Linked DNA regions of Homo sapiens: region 1 is linked to region 2. Evidence: fine-mapped expression QTL. Tissue or cell type: whole blood. Region 2 holds a variant in brackets; the other region holds the start of a gene. All regions are shown on one strand. Distances are between the middles of the regions.

Evidence for each region. PIP is the estimated chance that this variant, and not a neighbour inherited with it, causes the effect.
Region 1: DDX3X starts here. The variant in region 2 is fine-mapped to the expression of DDX3X in whole blood (TOPMed, PIP above 0.99).

Annotation. Positions count from the first base shown.
Region 1 is chrX:41,329,298-41,337,397 of GRCh38, reverse strand. DDX3X (DEAD-box helicase 3 X-linked) reads right to left here and starts at 3,236. Exons shown (of 17, transcript NM_001356.5): 1 at 3,101-3,236. The coding sequence starts at 3,145. RefSeq lists an enhancer at 3,606-3,835 and a silencer at 3,926-4,415.
Region 2 is chrX:41,439,314-41,447,418 of GRCh38, reverse strand. It overlaps NYX (nyctalopin), which reads right to left and starts at 76. Exons shown (of 3, transcript NM_001378477.3): 1 at 1-76. RefSeq lists enhancers at 1,951-2,000, 2,121-2,190, 2,341-2,410, 4,330-4,399, 5,340-5,389 and a silencer at 4,720-5,229. The variant G/A (reference allele first, on the strand shown) is at 5,000.

The DNA.
Region 1 (8,100 bases), 110 kb after region 2:
GTGAGATGGTTAGCACCCCATGTGCTCAAATACTACATTAAGAGAAAACTAGTCCTGCCCTCTAGCATTTGCTAGTACTGCATTCAAGTAGTTGCCCAGTCCACCTCACAGGGCTAATACCAACCCTTAATGAGAATGTGACTAAGAATGTTTTCAAGTCTGCAATGCTCTAAGCAAATGCAATATTACTATTGTATATACTACAGAAGGCGGCACACCAAGATGCTTGTGCTGTTCAGTAGAAACTGTCCAAATTTAATTCATGCATTCAAAATAAATTTTCACTAACATGTTCCATAGCACAGGCTCCCTAATCACCAAACTAAAGCTTACACTGAATCTCAAAATTATTCCTCAATGTCAAATAGATAAAGGATTCGTTTTAGTGCCGGTTATGAAAGTTTCCAATGCCAACTTTCCGTAATACTTGATATTTTAAACCTAAAATGCACACCTGAAAAATGTCAGGACAAATTTCGAAGTGGCCGTTCTTTTAGTTAGATACTTCATCCCTAAATATTGCCCAAGTATTTTTAGTCGGGTAGTACTCTTAAGAACAACAAAAAAATAGCAATATACCTACCACTTACAGAACACTATGTTAAGCACAACTCTTAAGTAGTTTGACTGTTTCGTTTGTTTTTATTTTTATTTTTTTTGAGACAGAGTCTCCCTCTGTCATCCAGGCTGGAATTCAGTCATGTGATCTCGGCTCACTGCAACCTCCACCTCCCCGAGTAGCTGGGATTACAGGGGTGCGCCACCACGCTAGGCTACTTTTTGTACTTTTAGTAGAGATGGGGTTTCGCCATGTTGCCCAGGCTGGTCTCCTGACCTCAGGTCAGGTGAACCACCTGCCTTGGCCTCCCAAAGCACTGGGATTACAAGCATGAGCCCGGCCTGAAGTAGTTACCTGTTTTTACCCCATTTTAACATAAGTTCAAAGATGACTTTGAATAAATGGCACAACTGGCGTTCAATGCTCTTAAAGAGTAGGACATCTTAGTGCCTTTCATCTCTATTTCTACCTATCCCCTTACACTGGTAGCTCAAAAGCCTCTTCATTCTAGAAAAGGGTTATGTGCTACCTTCATAACGTTTTATAACCAGGAACTACTCACAAGTAGTTGGGAGAAAAAACTATACATGCAAAGTGTTTCATTTTTCTCAAAAAAGCCACAAAAGACCAAGTCACACAGTACCGCTGCCAACCTGTTTGCAAAAGATGCACTACATACCATGTTTATAAATCTTGTGTTTAAAGCTCAGTATGATACGGCCAAACCGCATGCATCATCAATGGAGTCACTGAAAACTGGAAGCAGATGCTATACTTTTAAAAAATGAGTGTAAGACTTCAGGCACCTAATTTCCAGAATTTCTATGAGCAAAAACACCACTGCGCTTTCTCTTGCTACCATCAATACTTTAAAGCACGGTAGGAACACAAACTTTCCTTTTGCACTTGTTATAGCACAATTTTGCTTTTTAAATAAGGTTCACTGTTGCCTAGAATCCTTAAAAGGACACTATAGCTAAATGGAAAATGGTAAAACTGGGAATACTCTGTGCTGCTGGTAGGTTGTTAAAGTGTCTGTTCAATTCAACATGTGTCAGCAATTAGAGGATTTAATATAATTGGTTCATTAACGGGTAGAAAATGCTTCCAAAGGAACAGATCAATTCCTAAAAAATATTACATATGACTACATTAAACTATGTATTCAATTAATTTGTGCCACTAAACTTCGTCTCAGGATTATTCCGGAGTTTGTGAAATCAACGCTCCCCTAATCACAGTAGACAGTAGTTTATTTAAAAGCTCCGCATAACCCACACAAGAGCTTATCTGAAGCCTGGTGCCACTGTTGCGGTGGGATGCAGACTTCCTGCCACCAAAGTCCATAACCTTCTCCTCTCAAATCACACATCTTTCTCTCCTCTGCCCCTAAACCCTTAGAAGAGGGGATTCTGGCTAAGAGAAAAAACCCGGGGGCCTGGGACCCATTGCAAGATTCTACTCCACAGATAGCAACAAGTCAACAACAAAACTGTTTACTTCCCCCCTAAGCCGGGTGTTTTTCCAATGGCGGATTCCTGGATCACAGTCACTAACACGAAGACACTACCACAACCCGCGATGACCCCTCCACCCCAGAAAAACAACGCGGGACTCCCGGCTAACATACCACACAGGGACAATCTGGGGCAAGCAAGGAGGAGAAAGGGCCTCGCTGGCTCCCTAACCTCCCCGCCACGTCCAACCTCTATCTCCAGGGCCCAGCGCGCAGCGGCCAATTCCTGCCTCCCCTCCCCGCCCCCACCCCTCCCCCACTCCTCCCCAATCTTCTGCGTCACAAAACTTTCCACTCCGGAAACGCAGCCTCCCCGGCTGCGGCGCAGGGCCCCCGGACCCTGCGGAACCTGGGCTGAAGCGAAAAAGCCAGCGGAAGGAACCCGGGAAAAAACAAGAAACCCATTCCATCCTCCTTTCCAGGCCTTCGCCCGCCCGAGACCCGCCGTCTCCCGGAGGTGAGCCACAGCGCCGCCCAGCACCACACAAAAGAGGCCGCCGCCATTACCCCGAGCGAAGGCCGCCCCCTCCCACATTCCTGGGCCGCGTTCTACCCCTTGCTCGCAGGCACGCAAACACCGGGTGCCGCCAGGTCCTCCGGACGGGAATCCAGGCTGCGCCAGCCGTGAAGGCCGAAGCCCTCCAAGCCAAAAGGGCCTCCAGTCGCGTCCCGCCGCGCTGCGCACTCCCGCAAACCCCCCCAGGTCACTAATCAGTCGGGATTCGCGCATGCGCGTCCCCGCGAGAGCGCGCGCACTTCCTCCCCCTCCGCCCGCCTGCGCACGCACACACAAAAGCCGCCATTGTGCTCGTCCCGGGGACAATACAGCGGGCCGAGACCGGGCCCGGGCGACAGCCCCAACCAACATTCCTATCCCTCTATAGCCCCGGGGCACTCACACCCGCCAGCCCGGGGCACCCAGAAAATGAAAAGTAAGGGTGCCGGTTAGCGCTGCGCCATTAGCCAGGTTAGGTCAGGGGAGGAATTCACGCAGCAGCCAGCCCGGTGGGGTTCTTGCGGCTCACCTGCTGGTCCAGCCCGAGCGCATTTTCCACTGCCACATGACTCATCCCTGAAGAGTACCGAGAACTCGGAGTCTTCCGCTGCTAAGCGAGTGTTTGTTCCACCGCGAAGGCCCTCTCACGGGAGAACTGCGGCTCTGGAGCGCACCGCGCGGCCACGGATCTAATATACCCGCTGGAAAGCCGGCTACGTCAGCACGTACAACGTGTGCCCTCCCTCTCACACCGCAATTCCCTGTCGCGGCGACTTCTGCCCGGCTACTGCGCGCTCCCTCAGGTCTAAGCTCAAGGGATTTCCTACTTAGTCCTGTCGCCCCTAGCAGTCCTGCCTTGGAGCTTAGGGTGCGAAATGCTGTCCCAGTTCTCTCGAGCTACACTTCCCGTGCTCTCCGCTAAAACCCTAGTCTCAGCCTCGGAGTTCTCGAGATCTCGCGAGAACTTGCGTCTCCCGCTTTCCACCGGCTAAGACGCCTGAAAATGTTAACCTAGGCCTCTTCGCCCCCCTTTCCAACCTTACGCATTCGCTCCCCTTTCCAACTCTATGCACTCAGCTTTCGTTTTTCGTTTTTTTTGTTTTTGTTTTTTTTTTCCTAACACTGGCCTTCACTCTTCTTCCTCTCTCAGTTCCCGGGCTTGGAGATGTGGTGGGATTTCTCCGGTCTAATCTGCCCTCGCTCTTCCGCGGGTAGCCTCCCCTTAGTGGGAGCTAGGCAGATTCCCGAAACTGAGAGGGCGGCAGGCCACGTGACCGTAGGTGTCGCGTGCGGTGGCCATTTTGTGAAGCAGGAAACGGTGGCTTGAATATAGAGTGCTCCGGACGGGGGAGGGGAGGGGAAGAGGAGGAGAGAACAGAGGGAAGGGGAGGAGAGGGAGGGAAAAGAGGGGAGCGGAGTAAGGGGAAAGGAGGAGGGAGGAGGGTAGGATGGTGACCGGGGCGGGAGTCGGGGGGAAATGGAGGGGAGCCGGCGGCGCGCGCAGGTGGCCGGACACCTTCCTGCGCGGTTGCCTAGGCAGCGGGGGCGCCGCCTAGAAACACACAATGGCCCCTCCTGGCCAACCCCCCGACGTGTGCGCGCGCGCCTCCGCCCCCGCCCCCCGCGGTGAGGGAACAATGAGACAGACACGCGCTGATCCGGAACCGCCGCTGGCGCGCCCTCCCGGGACCCCGGCTCTCCGCAGGAATGCGGGCTACATTTGCCCCTAGTTTCCTCCCGCGGGGCGCCCAGCGGCTTAGGGCCGGTGACCACCGGCGTTGCGGGGACCCCGCGGGTGGCGAACGGCTCTTCTAGGGCCCAAGGGTGTCGGGAATGTTTGTAGCCGGTGCAACCTGGGCCTGCCGGAGGGGCTGCAGCGGGGTTACCGGCCTGGGCTCGGGGTGACTCTCAGGCCGCTGCGGTGGATGAGGAACAGGAGGAACCGGGTTTCTACCGTCGGTGGAACCTCTTCCTGTGGTTCCCTCCTAGGCAGGCCACCCCAAGTCCCGGCTTCGGTGCCGCAGGCCCTTAAATAGAAGAAGGTGTTTACTAGTGGATTCCCGGCTTTGAGCCGGCGCCCGCACATCCGTAGTTTCTTATGACCGCTTTCCCCTCTCTTCTGACCCTCAGCCCTACGAAATTAAATAAAACGCAGTGGTTTCCACCACCCCCACAAAAGGTCTTCTGCTGCCAGAATTCAAATAGTTCGTGCTCATCACATAATTTACTATACACATAACTTCTCTCCCTTCTCAATTTTTAAAATCGAGACGGAAATTCGAACGAGATAGGGAGAGAATATCACACTGTCGGGGGCAAGTTGTTTAACGGCTTTGGGTCTCAATTTGCTCATCTATAAAAGGAGTCTGCTACATTCCATAACCCTGTGAAAGACCCAACTCCTTTTCATAACGAGTATTTTCTAACGCCCCCTTTACCTATACTGAAATAACAAAACCTAAATTGTTTATGTAAACCTACAAACACAATTTCAAAAAACATGATCTGTCAACAAACGAAAGCAAAATGATTATAATAAAACAATGTATTATAATATGTAAATGCCGCCGCACAGCTACACTAACTGGTGGGAAGACACTTGCCCAGTAGAGCCACAAATGCAAACTGGAAAGGTGTGTTGATTTCACAACTCAAGTTCCATGAGCAGCATTGCTACTAGGAACCTCATTTTCCAAAATGATGAACTATTAATAATTTTTAAATAAAACAGTACAATCTTCCTTCAATTGAAACAGTACCTGCATTTGTGGAAAATTCAGGATATATGGAAACTGGGCAAAGATACTTTGTGTTCATATGTAAAACAGTGTTAGTTCTAGGCTTAGATGATAATGAACTAGTTTTTCACCGACATGTGTCCAGTGATTCAATTATTCGCTCTGTGGGACTGACCAGCATCATAGAACATCCTAGCGTGCCTGGCTCCTGCCCACTAAATGCCAGTAGCTCTCGCCAGTCATTGTGACAACCAGAAATACACAGATTTCTACAATGCCCCTTGGAGAGCCACTAGGTTTAATGATATTAGGGTCCCTTCCTGCCCTGAGATTCGTGGATTCTCATGGAGTTTTGGTGAAGGACCTCGGTTTTGTTTCAGTTTCGTTTTCCTATGAACCAGGGTAAACATGAGTCAGGTTCGAAAACTGTGAGTTCCGACAGCTCTTCAAACTGCATATAGCAACAATGGGATGCACTGACTACCCTGGTTCTGGGCTTTGTTTTACTTTTGAGTAGAGCCGAGTACAGGGTACCGCCATGGGAGTACCTAAAAGAATTGAAATATACAGCAGTTCCCTATTTTCAATTAACCCCTGCTCATAGGCATACTTGGTTCAAACCACCAGGGTATTTTGTTAATCAATACGTTATAATTGGAATATCCAATTGGAGAGGAAGCGGGAAAACATACAAAGCTTTGTCTTTAAACACATTCACTTTGAAAAAGAATGATGTGCACACTTGAGGCAGCTAAATAAATGAGCCAACTTTCACAGCACTCCGAATGACTTTTCCGTTTAGCAACATTTGCATATTTTCTCCACATGGCAGTTATTTGCAAATTTTATTTGAAGTGACCTAAAAAAGGGTTAGAAATGGCTGAAACCAGGCCGGCCGCGGTGGCTCACGCCTGCAATCCCAGCACTTTGGGAGGCCGAGGCGGGCGGATCACGAGGTCAGGAGACTGAGACCATCCTGGCTAACACCGTGACACCCCGTCTCTAAAAAAAATACAAAAATTAGCCTGGGCGACAGAGCAAGACTCCGCCCCCCCCCAAAAAAAAAAAAGAAAGAAATGGCTGAAACCAGGGAAATTTTTTTTTGCACGCTCCCTTTCTTAATGTTTCCAGGCATTTTAACTGTTCATATTGAAGCAAATGTACTTCCTGCAACACCGCCCCCTCCCTCCACTTCCACCCCCATTCCTGGAGGTAGCGCAGTGAACCAGAGCCTGGGAATTGCAATTCCTCTAACTACCAGTTCAGCTCCCTGCTTACAGGCACCAGGCAACTCCCTTGACAGTGCCCTGGCTTCCTTATCTATAAAGTTGGAATAAAAGTAGTCTCTGCCTCCAAGAGTGTTTGGGATTCAAGGGCTTGTGCATGAATTGAAAGTGCTCTGCGAGGCAGGGCGTGGTGGATAATGCCTGTAATCCCAGCACTTTGGGAGGCCTAGGCACGCGGGATCACTTGATTCCAGGAGTTACGGCTTGGTGGCGCGCGCCTGTAATCCCAGCTACTCCAGAGGCTGAGGTGGGAGAATCGCTTGAGTCCAGGAGGTGGAGTTTGCAGTGAGCTGAGATTGCGCCACTGCACTCCAGCCTGGGCGACAGAGTGAAACTCGTCTCAAAAAGAAGGCGGGGGTGGGGGGGAGGAGAGGTAGTGTTTAAGATCTTTTTTTTTTTTTTTAAGTGTTTTGCAGGGAGTAAGAGCTTAGTACCAAGTGGCTCTGGATCCACATAACACGTGTCTAGCTCCCCATCCTCTCAACTCCCTTAGTAGAGTAGGTTGCTCTGGGCACTGGGCTCCCACAGTCTCCACTGTTCAAACTTCCACTGTAATTCCGTGTGGTACTGCAGCTGTGTGTGAGCCCACAGAGGACAGGAAATTTGTCACACCTCTCTATGCAGAATGGAGACAGAGATAGACTGAAATCACATTATTGCGATGCACATAAATAATGTGCCCAAGTAACCTAAAACCTGGGACAAAGATAATTAGACTATTCCGAAGCTAGAAGAAAAGGAGTTGTAAAAGGGATTCCAAGAGATAGGTACCTTAAAGCCTTTAGTGAATTTCATGATTGTCAGTCATTTTTCTGCAAGGTCCAGGGGAAGGGCCTCCTGGGTCCAGCTGATCCATACTTTTCTTTAGGGTGGATTTGGAATAAAGTTCAAAGACATAGAACTTCCCTATAATAAGAAGGATAATTATAGGTGTGGAGGTAAATGCAGTTCCGTACTTACTCTCTCTGTTTTTTGTTTTTTGTTTTTGAGACGGAGTCTCGCTCTATCACCCAGGGGCTGGAGTGCCATGGCACGATCTCGGCTCACCGCAATCTCCGCCTCCTGGGTTCAAGCGATTCTCCTGCCCCAGCCTCCCGAGTAGCTGGGATTACAGGCATGCGCCACCACGCCCAGCTAATTTTCTATTTCTAGTAGAGACGGGGTTTCTCCGTGTTGGTCAGGCTGGTCTCGAACTCCCGATCTCAGGTGATCTGCCCGCCTCGGCCTCCCAAAGTGCTGGGATTACAGGCGTGAGCTACCACGCCTGGCCTTAGGCAATTATTATACTCTCAAACAGCAGATCCGGCCTGGAATCTGCTTTCCTTCCTCAAAGAAGACAAGATCAAAAACAAAATTGTATCAAAGGGCATCTTTTCTACCACTAAAATTGCTAAAAATATTTTCAAACAGCAAAGCTCAGTGCATTTCTGCCTTTGTTCATGCAAAGTGACCGAAGACTGAAGTCTTGGAAGTATAGTGAAGGGGGTTGGGTCATATGCCCTCAG
Region 2 (8,105 bases):
GTTTGAGAGAGAAGTAAAGGTGGGGGTGGGGGGACGGGAGGAAGGGGTGAAGAGGAATAGTTACTTGTGCAGGTTTGAGTGCTTATTTTTCTTTCTCCAGATTTAATGGCAGGAAAATCCTCTGTATCACATGAGGATTAACAGAGATGAAAGAATGTGTCTGCCTTTCGAATCACTAAAGCCAGTGACAGATTTTGCTGACATACCAATCGGCTTTATCCCCGGGCCTTGACCACCCTGGCCCTCCTGTCCTCTCTCCATCTGCCTGGCCCCTTTCTCTCCTTAAACCTTCCCCAGACCCTGCCCCGTTCCCTGACCCCAGCCCCAGCCCCAAGCAATATGTAGCCTGAAATTGGCTTCCTGCCACCCAAACAGCATTATCAGCATTTTCAACAAGGACGCATTATATAACTTGGAGAGCTGGAGAAGGGACAGGACAGCTTAAAATGTTTCCCCAAAATGCCGGCTGCTGATTTCCTTTCTTTGAAGTGGTTGATGGTGAATGATACAAAAACGGACTGGAGAGAGTCCTTCCACTACAAGAAGGCAAGAGGTTCCCACTGGGGTTAGGGCTGGTAGTGGTGGCCTAAGGCAGTGGGTCCAGGAATGGGACCTTCAGAATCTGGCTGAGGTTTCTGAAACCCACCAGGACTCAGTTTAGGCCCTGGCTACTCAGTGTGGCCGGTGGACCAGCAGCAGTACCTGAGAGCTCGTTAGGAAAACAGAATCTCAGCGCCTTCTACCCCCCGCCCCAGACCTGTTGAATCAGCATCTGCTTTTTTTTTTTTTTTTTTTTTTTTGAGATGGAGTCTCACTCTGTCGCCCAGGCTGGAGTGCAGTGGCACAATCTTGGCTCACTGCAACCTCCACCTTCTGGGTTCAAGCGATTCCCCTGCCTCAGCTTCCTGAGTAGCTGGGACTACACCATGCCCAGCTAATTTTTTGTATTTTTAGTAGAGACGGGGTTTCACCATGTTGACCAGGATGGTCTTGATCTCTTGACCTTGTGATCCACCCGCCTCGGCCTCCCAGAGTGCTGGGATTACAGGCGTGAACCACCGCGCCCGGCCAGCATCTGCATTTTAACTAGGTCGGCGGAGAGGGGGATTCCTGTGCCCGGTAAAGTTTGGAAAGCCCTGTTTTAGGAGACTGGTGGAGGGGGTCTGATCAAAATGAGGGTGGCAGGGGGGCCTGTTTATCTAGCCTTTCTGGCCAGCAGTTCAGGTGCCCCCACATTCTCCTGGCCCCAGCAAGCCTCTGCTGTCTGCTGGGACAGCACTTCCAGGTATCCATGGCAACCTGCCAAGTTCTGGCCACGCAGGACTTGGTGAGCCAGTGCTGATGAAAGGAAGCCAGGAGTTCCCTTCCCACAGAAAGGGTTCTGGATGTGAATCTAGACATCTCAGGCCACCGTGCCCTGGGGAATTTTTGTTTTCTTCCATTTGAGCCTTGAAAGCCAAAATGTGGCTGAACTTGTCTAACCTGCTGGAAAGAAGAGAATACTAGGGATGGGGTAGGGATGTGGGTGGGGGAGGCCTCTCAAATGACATCTCTATCCCCAGTGTTGGACTCGCCTGGCTTATTAGATGAGAGCAGTGGGCAGCCCTCTCATTGTGACCACCAGTGTCGGAGGTGTCCCTGTAGCCATCACCCCAAGCCTTAGCCCAACGAAGCCCCCACTCCCCCAGCAGCAGTCCAGAGGCTGAATCTCGACTGTAAGAGCCAACCTGTCTGCACCCACAACCTTTGTTCGCAGCTTATTGGTCCAACCTTCCCTTCAATCTTCTCCAGGCCAGTGGGCCTGGTGCTCTGGCACTGGGATCCCACTAAGGAAGACCTTCTTCTCCACCTGTGAACTGAAACATTTCTCCCAAGTGGAAAATAAGGAGGCATCAGAGACTCTTGGCATAAAAAGGAAGGAGCCCATCCACCAGGTGAGCTGGTACCACCGACTTGGGAGGATGAGCAGCCCTTAATCAAAACCTTGCTGCAGGGAGAAAAGCAGGTGGCCCAGGGTTGTTACAGGAAATGCGATTGACTGACTTCCCCTGGGAGAAACTTAAAGCTCAAGACAGGAGAAAGGCCGGCCCTTTCAGAGCCTACTCCAGCCACTCGTGGGCTGCTGGGGGAGGGATTTTTTCGTTTTTGTTTTTGAGATGGAGCCTTACTCTGTCCCTCAGGCTGGAGTGCAGTGGCGTGATCTCAGCCCACTGCAACCTCTGCCTCCCGGGTTCAAGCAATTCTCCTGCCTCAGCCTCCTGAGTAGCTGGGACTACAGGTGAGTACCACCACACCCGGCTAATTTTTTTTGTATTTTTAGTAAAGATGAGGTTTCACCATGCTAGCCAGTTTGGTCTCGAACTCCCGACATCAAATGATCCACTGGCCTCAGCCTCCCAAAATGTTGGTATTACAGGCGTGAGCCACTGTACCTGGCCCTCCTGGGGTGGTTTTGTACCCATGCTAGTTCTCACTCATCATGCAGTTGGTAGCCCATAAAAGGAGCTGAAGGAGGGAGAAGGGGTGTGTAAGTGACCTTGAGAAATAGTGATGGCCCAAGATGCATGATTTTGCCAGCCTCCACCTCCTGGATTCAAGCCATTCTCCTGCCTCAGCCTCCCAAGTAGCTGGAACTACAGGCGCCGGCCACCATGCCTGGCTAATTTTTGTGTTTTTAGCAGAGATGGGGTTTCGCCGTTTTGGCCAGGCTTCCCCACCTTGGAATTGGTAAGAATTACCGATTAATTAAGACAGCCGGCGACTACTGGAGGCTTTGCCTGCTATCTGGAGGACACAGATTTGCCCTCCAGCCTTTCTGCCCTGTAGTGACAATTCACAGACACCCCAACCCTGGGTAGCCCTTCCTGGGCCTTTGCTTTGCTCCTTTCTTTCCCCACTTCTCCACCTGCTGAAATCTCAATCTGCCTGCTATGCTTAGCATAAGCGCTACCACCTCTAAGAAATGAATCCCCTTCCAGTGCCCTCCTTTCTCACTTGCAGGCATCTGCCTCGAAGTTCACAGTGTTTGTTTGTTTGTTTGTTTGTTTGTTTGTTTGTTTGTTTTGAAACTGAGTCTCGCTCTGCTGCCCAGGCTGGAGTGCAGTGGTGCGCTATCGGCTCACAGCAACCTCCGCCTCCCGGGTTCAAACAATTCTCCTGCCTCAGCCTCCGGAGTAGCTGGGATTACAGGCACGCGCCACCATGTCCGGTTAATTTTTGTATTTTTAGTAGAGATGGGGTTTCACCATATTGTCCAGGCTGGCCTCAAACTCCTGACCTCAAGTGATCCGCCCACCTCGGCCTCCCAAAGTGCTGGGATTACAGGCGTGAGCCACCACGCCAGGCCTGAGCCACTGCGCCCAAAGTTCATAGTGTTTGGATGGCTGGCCTCCTTGGAGGGGCTGTGCTTGATCCAAGTCTGCACTCCCACAATGTCTGGCTGGTGTCGCCTTCAGACAGGGCAAGAGGCAGGGAGACACAGGGCAAGGAGTCATTGAGGCCAAGACACTTACCCACCCAGAACCACGTTCTGGATACCTGCGACCTGGGAATTCACTGCCCAACAGGTTCTGAACCCACTCCTCTAGGTCCAGTCTCCTGAAGGTGGATGGTCTCACCAATGTGCATACTCGAGAGGTGATCCTTTAGGGGGTAGACAGTTGCAGAGAAGGGGACAGAGCTTGGATATGAGGACGTGCGTGGGAAAGATCCGCTATAGCATGGGATGGATCCGGCCTGGGAATAGAGGGAAGCTACGCCATGGCCTTGAGCTGGGGCCACTCTCTGTGCCATCACACCCTAGCCCAGAATGCTGAGGAATGCAAGAATTGCAAACTTGAATTTAACCTTCCAGATTGTTATGAAGGTATATCTGCTCAGATAGGAGGATAGAACATGTTTTATTTAACAGTTTTTTAGCTTGATGTGTAGCTTTTAAATATTCAGACATACAGTGTGTGGTCCTCCGTGCGTACTCTTGCCCCAGGCCCCACAAAGCTGGGCCCAAGCCTGGGTTTGGCACACAGGCGGAAGTGCACAATTGTTTGCTGAAGGGAATTGAAGCCCATGTGAGAATTTGTAAGGGAGCTATAGAAAGAGAACCGGGTGAGTGACAGCCTTGGCCTCTTACCCTTCCTTTTTCTCTGACTTACTGGATGGTGTCAGGACAGGGACTTTCAGTTCCTAGGCCTGATTGTACTCGAAACATATTCCATAATCTTGTCCAGACCCCTCATTCTTCAAGTGAGGAAACTGAGGCCCAGAGAGATTAAGTGACCTGCTCCCCAGAGTGACATATGAAGGTGGAGCTGGGACCCAGTGGGTACCCTGTCCTCCTGCCTCCCAGTCCCTGGGTTTTTCTCGGGTCCTAATAAGGACACACACAGCCCCTGTGGCCACCCCCGACGTCCCCACTGCATGCCTCAGATCAGGATGGGGGAGGGGTAGCCACTCCCCTCTTGCTGGGCACCTCTAAATGACCTTGGCTGAACCTATTCTGTGGCTAAAGCACCCAACTCCCTTGTTCTTTATTCGCAAACTATCCTACTTCTGTCGTTTCACATCCGCCCTTCCAATCCAAACCCCAGCTCAGTGGGGTTGGATTGGATCAGCCTGGGCTCCCGGGCCTCATTTCTGGAATTGGAGGAAGGAGGAAGAGAGGCGAGAGTGCCCTCATTCCGCTGACTCCCAGTGTAGTGACAGTGACGTCGCCCCAACGGCAGGCCCGGACACAGTTAGGTGCGGGCTCGCGCCCCATCTGGTGCCCCGGGGCTCAGGGCGCGCCGCCGCGGTCCTGGAGGGGCAGTAGGCAGCGAGTCACTGGGCTGGACGTTTCCGCTCTGGCTCCTCCCTCCGCGGGCTTCAGAAAACTAGTTCAGCTCGCTGGCCCCGGCTGGCAACCGTGCGTGACACAGTGGTTTTTTTTTCCCATAAAGGTCACGTCCTTGCGAAACCTCTGCAGCCTCTGCCGGTAACCACCACCCCGGCCCCACCCTGGGGA[G/A]AAGGGGCGGAGCCTCCGGGGCGAGCCACGCCCCCGATGAGCCCGGTCCTGCCCAGCGTGGCCGCCAGAGGGCACCGAGGTTCGGGAGTCGGGGTGGGGCGGCCCCGGGACCTCTGTCTGCTCCCCGCCGCGGCACCCGCACCTACTCGGTGGGGGCGGGGGCCAGGGCTGGGGAAAGTCCCAGGGCGTGCCTGGTGCCAGAAACGTTCCTCACGCACCTGGAGTCGCAGAATGCCCGGGCTGGAAGGGATGCCAGGGTGGGGACCTAACCTGCCAAAGGTCACACCCTGGGGAAGATCTCCCAGTGCCGTGTCCTCCTGACCAGGCCGCGTAGTGCGCATGGCCTGTTTGTCACCTGTAAATGAAGGGTTAGCTCACCAACAGGCTCTGCCCACTGCCCACAAATACACCTTCCTGGGGCCTCTTCTGAAATCATCGTTCTTTACATTGCATCCAAAGTAGGTTTCTCTCCCATTGCAGCAGATGTCAAACAAAAAACAAAGTAGGTCTCTCCATTTCCCGATACAGTTGACCCTTGAACAATATGGGTTTACACTTCGCGTAACCACTTACACTTGGATTTTTTTTTCAATAAAAGTTACACCAAGGGCCGGGCGTGGTATTTTTGGTAGAGATGGGGTTTCACCATCTTGGCCAGGCTGCTTTTGAACTCCTGACCTGGTGATCCACCTGCCTCGGCCTCCCAAAGTGCTGGGATTAAGGGCGTGAGTCACCGTGCCTGGCCAGTTATTGTTTGTGTATGTGTGTGTGTTTTGTGGTTTTTTGTTTTTTTGTTTTTTGTTTTTTTGAGACAGAGTCTCACTCTGTCGCCCCGGCTGGAGTGCAGTGTTGCAATCTCAGCTCACTGCAGCCTCCACCTCCCAGGTTCAAGAGATTCTCCTGCCTCAACCTCCTGAGTAGCTGGGACTACAGGCATGCACCACCATGTCTGCCTAAATTTAAAAATTTTTTTTTGTTGAGACAGTGTCTCACTATGCTGCTCAGGCTGGTCTTGAACTCCTGAACTCAAACTATCCTTCTCCCTTGGCCTCCCAAAGTGTTGGGATTATAGGCGTGAGCCACTGTACCCAGCAGAGAATATTTGTTTGCTTGTTTGTTTTGAGATGGAGTTTCACTTTTGTTGCCCAAGCTAGAGTGCCATGGCATGATCTTGGCTCACTGCAACTTCCATCTCCTGGGTTCAAGTGATTCTCCTGCCTCAGCCTCCCAAGTAGCTGGGATTAAAGGCATGCACCACCATGCCTGGCTAATTTTGTACTTTTAGTAGAAATGGGGTTTCACCATATTGGTCAGGCTGGTCTCGAACTCCTGACCTCAGATGATCCATCCACCTTGGCCTCTCAAAGTGCTGGGATTACAGGTGTGAGCCACCTCACCTGTATATATAGAATATATATAGAATATACATAGAATATATATAATCCATATAGATTATACATAGAATATATATAGAATATATATAGAATATATATATAGAATATATATAGAATATATATATAGAATATATATATAGAATATATATAGAATATATAGAGATTATATATAATCCATATATATAGAATATATAGAGATTATATATAATCCATATATATAGAATATATAGAGATTATATGTAATCCATATATAGAATATATATAGAATATACATAGAATATATATAGAAAATATATAAGAATATATATAGAAAATATATAAGAATATATAGAATATATATAAGAATATATATAGAATATAGATAAGAATATATATAGAATATAGATAAGAATATATATAGAATATAGATAAGAATATATATAGAATATAAAGAATATATAGATATAGAATATAGATATAGAATATATAGATATAGAATATATAGAGAATATAGAGAATATATATATAGAGAATATATAGAGACAGAATATATATATTCTATATATTATATATAGAATATATATATATTCTATATATTATATATAGAATATATATATATATTCTATATATTATATATATTCTCTTACAAAGTTATGTTAGTTGACTCTTGATTGCAAGGTACAAGTATCTAACTCAAAACAGTTTAAGCTCAAAAGTGAATTTCCTGGAGAGAGGAGAGAATCAGGAGTTATAGTTTAAAGGGTATAGAGCTTCAGTGTGAGATGAGGGAAGCATTCTAGAGAAGGATAGTGGTGATGGTTGCACAACAATGTAAGTGTACCTACTGCTATTGAATTGTACTTTTTTTTTTTTTTTTTTGAGCCTCACTCTATCACCCAGGCTGGAGTGCAGTGGCACGATCTCGGCTCACTGCAACCTCCGCCTCCCAGGTTCAAGCAATTCTTTTGCCACAGCCTCCCACTCAGAGGCTGGGATTACAGGCGTGCATCACCATGTCTGGCTAATTTTTGTATTTTTAGTAGAGACAGGGTTTCACCATATTGGCCAGGCTGGTCTCAAACTGCTGACCTCAGGTGATCTGCCTACCTCGGCCTCCCAAAGTGTTGGGATTACAGGCGTGAGCCACCGAGCCCTACTTGCTTTTATTTTTTTTTTAATTTTATTGACCTGTGGTTTGACCATTTGGTGGATGGTGTTTCTGCCTTTCTGTGAATACCAAAACAACCTAATACATTGAATAAACTGGTTAATGTGTGCTAAACTAATGAAAGAATGAGTCTTTATTGTCCAATATAGGATCTTAGTTTTTTTATATGTTCGTTTGTTTGCAGATGGTATGATCTATGTACACTTGAAAAGAGACAATATTAACTTGTCCCATCTCTAATCTCTCCATAAGTCTGTTAAATTCATATTGTTCATGGACTTGTCTTCTAGCATGTAGCACAGACTTAAAATCTAGTAAGCCCTGAAAACAGTTTTTTGAAAGAATTATTCAATTATACAGTATTTTTCAATTTAGTTTGTGTCTATTTTTTCCAGAAATGGAATATTGAGGGTTCCAATTAAAATCATATTTACTTCTTCTTGCCTTTTTGTCTATTTTCTTTTATGGGTTTGTTACAATGGTTTTTGTAACACATACATTCAGTATTTTCAATTTTCATAATGTAATATACATTTGAGCATTATGTAATGACCTTATTTATTTA